Homo sapiens: one gene and its partner. Each later gene encodes a partner of the first gene's protein in a complex. Each region holds a gene or a part of one and is shown on either strand. Other genes may lie near its edges. The genes, in order: FETUB and MEP1A. A codon is read from its position in the direction of its gene.

Region 1 (3,564 bases):
GCTAATTTTTGTATTTTTAGTAGAGACAGGGTTTCACCATGTTGGCCAGGCTGGTCTCAAACTCCTGACCTCCGGTGATCTGGCCGCCTCAGCCTCCCAAAGTGCTGGGATTACAAGCATGAGCCAGCACGCTGAGCCAACTGAAGTCTTTTTAGTTGAGCCACCTGAGTACAATTCTGCTTCTTTCAGACCCTGACCAACACGGTGTAAGACCCCACATGACACCCCCACATAATCACTTCCTTCTTATGAGAAGCAGATAAGAGGAACAGAGTGTGAACATTGTCTACGTCTCTTATGCAAATTATGCTGAGGCCTGTGTGCCTCTTCTAACAGCCACCAAGATAGAGGACAATAGCTGCATCTGCAAATTCTCTGTCAAAATGTCCAAAGTCTTATCTGCTGTGCATGTGTGCGTGTGCACATAGGTATCACTGAATGAGGGGAAATTGGCCCTGCAGTGTTTGAAAGAAGGAAAACGTAGACTGTAATTGAATGCTGTGATGAGCCCTCCTCTAACTGTCCTAGAGAAATTGTAACAGTGATGAGAACTGTCACGGTCTGCTGCTCCCACAGTGTCTAGCACAGGCCACATGTGCACTTCCCTTCTATGTGCCTCCAGCTCTAAGTGAATTACCCCACTGTTGAGACCTGGAGACTTCCAGACAGATGAAAAGAGGTAGAGGGTTGGAAATGGTATGGGCCCTACGCAGCTAATACCTGTCCTGGAATTAAAGGGAATTTAGGGACTGAAACTGTGCTGGGCATTAGTTGCTCACGCCTCCCGGTGTTAGGGAAAGTATCTTTACTCATGCAATGCTTTCATGCTGAGATTTCAGCACATATATACTGCTGAAAAGATAAGTATCTTTATAAGTGAGTGGCTGAAGACATAAGAGAGGCATCTCTCCATGGTATGAGACTGCTCAGTTTAGGAGGTGATGCAGCTCAGGGTACAAGGCAGTGTACAGGGTAGAGTGCAGCCCAAGCCGAGGGCTCAGTCTCATTATTTCCAATCCCAGTCAACATGCTGAGACCAAGAAGAGTCAAAAAGGCGTCCTTCACTAGCCACTCTACGTGTGCACGCTCTGTCTCTGTCCATCGTCCCCATCGCCTCCCATGTCATGCGGCGCACCATACCCCTACAGAAGACTCTGTGTGATTCTCATGGCGGAAGGACAAGAGGGCTGGCATTCTGGGCTGGCCCTGGGCACTCAGCAGTGCGTGCTTTTTCTTTGGGGAAAGGCAGGACCACCAGCTTCTCCTCCATAGGCTCCAGGAAGAGGAAGGAAATATCCAGGGTTTCTCCCTGGGGATTCGTGGTTAGGTCCAGATGCACAGGAAAGGCCTCCTGAGGGCCCTTTTCCTGGGAATTTTTATCATCCAAGTCAGGAAGATATTGGACAGATCCTCTTGGCCCAGCTTTGGAGGGGGAGTCTGTTGGGGGGGTGTTTTTCTGCTGGGATTCTTCCACCTTGGGAAGGTTTGTAGGTTTCTGGTTAACAGCAGAGTTTTCACTTCCAGTGGCTGGAGCCTGGAATGAGAACATTTTTGAATGTAGAGTTCCACAGGGAAAGTCCTCCCATGCCTAGTACCAGCCTAAGCTGATCTGTGCCTTTCTGTTGGAACATTTCAAAGGGAGACTAGGTAGAGGGATGGGCCTCCTGGTGAAAGGGTTAAAAAACAAAACAGATAAGGGCCAGGGGGAACCAGGACCTGTAGAAGCTTGACTGTGAGACTGTAAGTCTCACAATTTCAGAGCTGAATAATGGCCCAGAGAGGTTCAATGACTCACTCGAAGTCTCCAGCAAGCTCTCTTTCTGTTCCCAGTAGTGGAAGCAGCAGGTGCCTTTCCTTGCTTGTTTATTCTGCACCAGGCCTTGTACAGCACCCTTCATTCAGGTCCTTTCACTTGCTTCTCACAGGGATCTGAATGATGCAGTGTCGCAATCCCATTTTATAAATGAGGCAACCAAAACTCGAACAGGTAAGTGTGTGCCTGTTACACAGCTCACAGGTACCAGAGCAAAACTGGATCCCAAGTGTCCTGTTTCAACTGCTTCAAATATACCAGGCACAAATACACCTCAAATATAAACTGCCTCTCAAATATACCAGGCTACCTTATAATAAGTGCGCAATAAACACTTCTGGAAAGGGATTGAATATTTTCATGGAAATAACTTCTCCCTGTGGCTTGAGGTAAGGTTTCTTTGGGACGCTGAATTTAATGTCTCAGAGGCTTGAATCACATCCAAGCCAGCAGTTCCCTGTTTCTGAATTTGTCTTGCTTATTCTGCAGGACCATATTGCGACTGAAACAAGGCATAACAGGTCTTTGACTGGCTATCCTGTGGATGTGGACTCAGGCTAGCCTGCGCAAAGTGGTGAGCAAGGTGGTTGGGAAAATCAAAGGAGGGGGTAAGGTAGTGGCAGGTAACTATCGATAATCTGCTCTTCTTCACAGAAAGACAGGCAATTAGATTGAAAAATACCTGTGATTCAAAGAAGTCACAAGTCACAGAGACAAACTTTTCCCAGTGTGTTCGAGTCAGAGAACCTTTGCAAAGACCAACAGGCTAAAAGAGAAAATACAATGTCATGTGAGTATTACCAGTGATCACAGATGGAAATCAACTAGCTTTCTACTTGTGTAGATACACAGCCAATCAACATTTTTATGCTTCTACTATGTAACAGGTAGACTCTGAGTCAATTCTTTCTAGATCACCCCTACCAAGAAATCATCCAAATTAGGCTAAATTGCCTCCAATAATGAGAAACTCAGTATTTCTTGAGGAATGAAACTCTGTTTGTTAAAAAAATTCTTTGTGTTGAGTGGAAAGTTATGTCCATACAACTTCTACCTCTTGGCCTTAGTTCTACCCTTGGGTCAATTAGAAAACGTGTTTTCATCTTTTATATAGCAGCCCTTTAAGTGCGTTCCACCTGACATTTCTCTTCTCAGACAAAACCACTCTCAGCTCCTTAAATTTCTCTTTACTTAAAAGTAAAGTAGCTTTGTTTCCTTATTACAAATGTAATAGTTAGAATATAGATAAACAAAAGAAAATAAAGACCTGTAAATTGCATGAAATATATTTGTTACCTGCAGTGATTTGATTTCCTTCCTTCCAGTCTTTTTTTCTATGCATATACATTTTTCTTCTACAAAATAGAGTCATATTATATATATATTACTTTATAACTCTATTTTGTCACTTAACAATATATTGTAAAAACCCTCTTATGGCATTGAATGATCTTCTAGGGTTTTTAAAATAATGGCTACATAGTATTCCTCTGTGATGTTTAACAAGCTCTCTTTTGTTGGACAGCTAGATTGAATCTAATTTTTCTGTTGTTTAAACATTGAAGCTATATCTTTTCATGTATTCCTAGTTACTTCCTTAGAATAAATTCCTAGAAGAGGAATTTTAGAGTCATACTGTATGTACATTTTCAAGCATAAATAGAATGTTATAATAAAATGTTGCCTCAATTTCTAAAGAAGAGCTCTTAAGTATATCCACATAAAATTTACTAAATTTATCTAAAAATAAA
Region 2 (3,921 bases), on another chromosome or scaffold:
ATGCACTGCAATATATGAATCCGCATATAAAATTGGGATCTAAATAAAACAGATACCTACACAAGGCTATTATTTGTTTTATAAAAGCCATGCCGGAAACAGTTAAGGCATTTTAAATATATTAAAGTTTCATTAATCTCTTACTGCCAAAAACAATGTTTTTGCATTCTCTTCACTAATTCCTTCTTAAAAACTAGGTATCTTCAGAAACACAGCATTGACTTTTTTTTTTTCTACCACATCAGGAAGCTGCTCAATAAATGTTTTAGTGTACTCAAAAGCACTCTACTTCATTGTCTCAAACAATTAAGGAAAGTAAGGGCCGGACACGGTGGTGGCTCATGCCTGTAATCCCAGCACTTTGGGAGGCCAAGGCAGGCCGATCACCTGAGGTCAGGAGTTCAAGACCAGCCTAACCAACATGATGAAATCCCATCTCTACTTAAAAAATACAGAATTAGCCAGGCATGGTGACACACACCTATAATCCCATCTGCCTCCCTGAGGCAGGAGAATCGCTTGAACTCAGGAGGCAGAGGTTGCAGTGAGCTGAGATCGCACCATTGCACTCCAGCCTGGGCCACAAGAGCAAAACTCTGTCTCAAAACAAAACAAAACAACCTAAAGAACAATGAAATAGTTAAAATAATACAACGGAATAATACGTAAGACAAAACTGTTGTATTTTGCATTGTATGAGGTGGAGGCAGAAGAAGCAAGGTGCTTAGAAACAAGGAAGAAAAAAACATTCACCTTTGATTAATCAGAACCCAGATAACTAGCTAGAATTAACATAATTGGGGTGTTATTTCAGATAAAAGCATTTATTTTTGTTTTTGTTTTTAAACATTTTTTATTGATTTGGTAAAGCAACTGGAAAAAATACTTCTTGAGTATGCCCTATAGTCATGGAATAATCAACTAAACCTCAAACAGCCTTCTAGAGGCACAGGAGATTTCACATCCAGAGAAATGACTTTAAAATCTGGATTCACTTTCCTCAGTAAGACAGGAAAGTAGAGTTTTAGATAGAGTTTTAATGAAAACACTGATATAAAGCAAAGCTTCTGGTTAACTTTCAGTTGACCCCCACAGTGAGTTAACACCATTCCTTGAGGCCCTTATCTGCGATGAATTCCGGTCAGACCAGCACAGCCCACATAAAGGGCCAACAAATCATAACCTCTTCAGAGTCTTTCTTCCCACTAGAGAGGCTGAAGCTCCTGTCCACACAGATTTGGCTTGGTCATCTCAGGATTGGTCTCAGCCAGTGATAAATGTGATAGCAATCTCCGCCCAATCACACCTGAAAGAATTTGGTCCCACCAGATGTTCACATAATCATCCCGGTCCGTCCTTGACTGCTCGTGGTAAAATCCCAAAGCATGCAGGATCTCGTGTTCTATGATGGCCTTATAGGCACATCCTTGGCCAATGGAAATGTTCTGTCCCACATGTTGGTCACCAACCTCAGACCAGCACCTTTAAAGAGGAGAAGAGGAAAAATTTCTTCTAGAGAATTTTTAAGTGGCTGTCATTCACAGTACTCCAAAACACAAATTAGGAGGAAATTAGGCTTGATTTTAGAAAGAAATTACCAACAGCATTCTCATATGCTAATGGTCCAAAGATGGGGACTGCTTAAAGAAGGAGCATTCCCTAGAGGGAATACTGTGCAGGCTTTAAAAGTGAAGATATAATACATTATAAAAGTGGCACATACTCAGAAGCAAATCAATCCTATTATAACAATTCGTCAAGGTAGAAAGCAATAAACATTGGCATTCCTTCTCACCTCCACAAACCCACAGGGCACTCCAAAGAATAACACTGTTGCCTTTATCTAAAAAATTGTTGTCTGAGGGAAAGCTGTGGTTGATTTAATTTTTTTGAGATTGGGGGTCTCACTTTATCACTCAGGTTGCTGTGCAGTGCCACAATCACAGCTCACAGCAGCCTCAGCCTCCTCTACTCAGGTGATCTTCCCACCTCAGCCTCCTGAGAGGCTGGGACTTGGAACCACAGGCAGATAATGTTTTTATTTTTTTGTAGAGACAGGGTTTTGCCATGTTGCCCAGCCTGGTCTCAAACTCCTGGGCTCAAACGATTTGCCCTCCTTGACCTCCCAAAATGCTAGGATTACAGGTGTGAGCCATCGCACCTAGCCCTTTTATACTTTAATAAATTTTCAAAGTTCCTATAATGAACAAGCATATATTTTATGATCATAAAAAGATCCTCATTAAAAAGCAAATTAATAAAATCCATGTCTTCGGAAATAGCAGATCTACAGTGTTATGACAGCACAGAGAAGGCTGCCTAACTTATTTCTGAAGGGTATCAGGCAAGGAGGACCTGTAGCGTCCCTCTGAAATCAGTGGGCTCGGGAACCTCTGTCAGATTCCCTGAATTCCTTACGGTAGAATGTCTTCCTCTTTCATTCTCCCCCCAATTATTTTTTCTCTTCTCATAAACCCAATTTTTCACCTCTATTAGCAAACCCAAAGCTTTCCACAAATTGTCTCCTATTGGCTTTAAATTGTCAAATGAAGATCTATATTTTACCCAATGCTGAGCAGAAAAGAAAGATTTCCTGATAGTCATAAATGCAACCAATGGATTGCAAGTTTCATGGTGACAGTCACAGTGTCTTACCTGCCAATGTTCTCCCCAAGACTACTGACACAGTATACCTTCAAAGGCTAACAGATTTGATTTTTACTCAAAGATGAATCTTAGTTATTTATTTTCTAATAACTTTATTAAGGTATAATTTATATACTATAAAATTCTTTAATTTTAAGTATACAATTCAATGACTTTTAGTAAATTTACAGTGTTATGCAAATGTAACCATGATCAACTTGCCTCTCTGATAGTGGCATTTTATTACCAAATCAGAGTTTACTCTGCAAAATATTCACAACTCAGAGAAAGCATTTATTATTCATCTTTCTTTTTAAATTCCTCCCCCAACAGAAAGACATAAGTTGCAAAAATACCATACATTCCACCTCACTGAGAACTTTTGACCTTGTCTTTCTGAAAGAGTCCCAGTTAGCCTCCAACTTCAGGAGACCAGTGCCCTGAAGGGCTTAGGGGCACTTTGGGCCAGTCCCTTCCCAAAATATCTTCCTCTCTTTTTCCCTCTCTTAAATTATCTGTAACAGAGACATCTCCTGGCCATAGGTGATTAGGTTTCCCAGATTCAGTGCTTTTACAAAGAATGTCTCTCAAAGCTGACCTACCCCTTAATCAAGTAGTTGGGACTCACTTGAAAACAAAAAAAGAAGTTGGGAGAACTTCACTGTGAAAGTGAGAATTTTGGAAAGTAATTATGTGGATTTTGTTTTATTTTTAAGGAGTTTCTTTGTGAAAAAAGAATGATGCAAAAGTGGTAGCTGAAGAATGGAAATAAATTTGTTAATAAAGTTAATTGTTTCTCTGACGTTTTCAATGAAAAATTAAGGGTTTTAGCACTTCCTTGAAGGTCAGAGATTGCCAAGGGACAAAATGCAGTAGTCAAAAGCAGAGAGGCCCTAAAATGTGTGGTCTTTGCAAGGCCTGAGATATACTTTAAATGTTTCCCCTTTACAGAAAAATAAACTATCTAACTACTATTGGTTATCTCCATTTATATGACCTGCAAAAACCTCAAGCAATAAAACACATGCAGTAAGATGAGTTTACTCTCCTACCTCATCCCCAAAGTTATTCTTTCAGCAATATTCCCAGCCTCAGCAAATGAAGTTACCACTTGCCAGTCATCCAAATCTGAAATCTCAGATACTTTTGACTCCTCTCCTTTCCTAACCCCTCCTCCCACTAACCAATTTGATAAGGTTAGGTTCTGATAAATACACTTTTTCACAGATTTCTGAAATCCATTCCCTCTTCTTTATATCACCTGCCTCTTCCTTG

The links.
Region 2: the proteins of FETUB (region 1) and MEP1A are in contact, whole or in part, in a cryo-EM structure (PDB 7UAI), measured with the Homo sapiens proteins. Residues at the interface, in NP_001362516.1 of Homo sapiens: Phe109, Phe110, Lys144, Lys145, Tyr148, Met149, Thr150, Cys151, Pro152, Asp153, Cys154, Pro155, Ser156, Ser157, Ile158, Ser196, Ser197, Gln198, Trp199, Val200, Val201, Gly202, Tyr205, Phe206, Thr242, His245, Trp246, Phe249, Val250, Ser251; in NP_005579.2 of Homo sapiens: Asp126, Gly127, Cys128 (codon at 1,481), Trp129 (codon at 1,478), Ser130 (codon at 1,475), Glu131 (codon at 1,472), Val132 (codon at 1,469), Gln145 (codon at 1,430), Gly146 (codon at 1,427), Cys147 (codon at 1,424), Tyr149 (codon at 1,418), Ile152 (codon at 1,409), His155 (codon at 1,400), Glu156 (codon at 1,397), His159 (codon at 1,388), Tyr164 (codon at 1,373), His165 (codon at 1,370), Gln167 (codon at 1,364), Ser168 (codon at 1,361), Leu184 (codon at 1,313), Gly186, Tyr187, His189, Asn190, Asp192, Tyr194, Tyr214, Gln215, Phe217, Ser218.

What each region holds. Positions count from the first base shown.
Region 1 is NC_000003.12:186,650,233-186,653,796, reverse strand, and holds the end of FETUB (fetuin-B isoform 1 precursor), read right to left. Parts: intron 2,580-3,564; coding exon 2,496-2,579; intron 1,535-2,495; coding exon 1,166-1,534; 3' UTR 656-1,165; downstream 1-655. UniProt on the Homo sapiens protein: Protease inhibitor required for egg fertilization.
Region 2 is NC_000006.12:46,817,090-46,821,010, reverse strand, and holds part of MEP1A (meprin A subunit alpha precursor), read right to left. Parts: intron 1,483-3,921; coding exon 1,307-1,482; intron 1-1,306.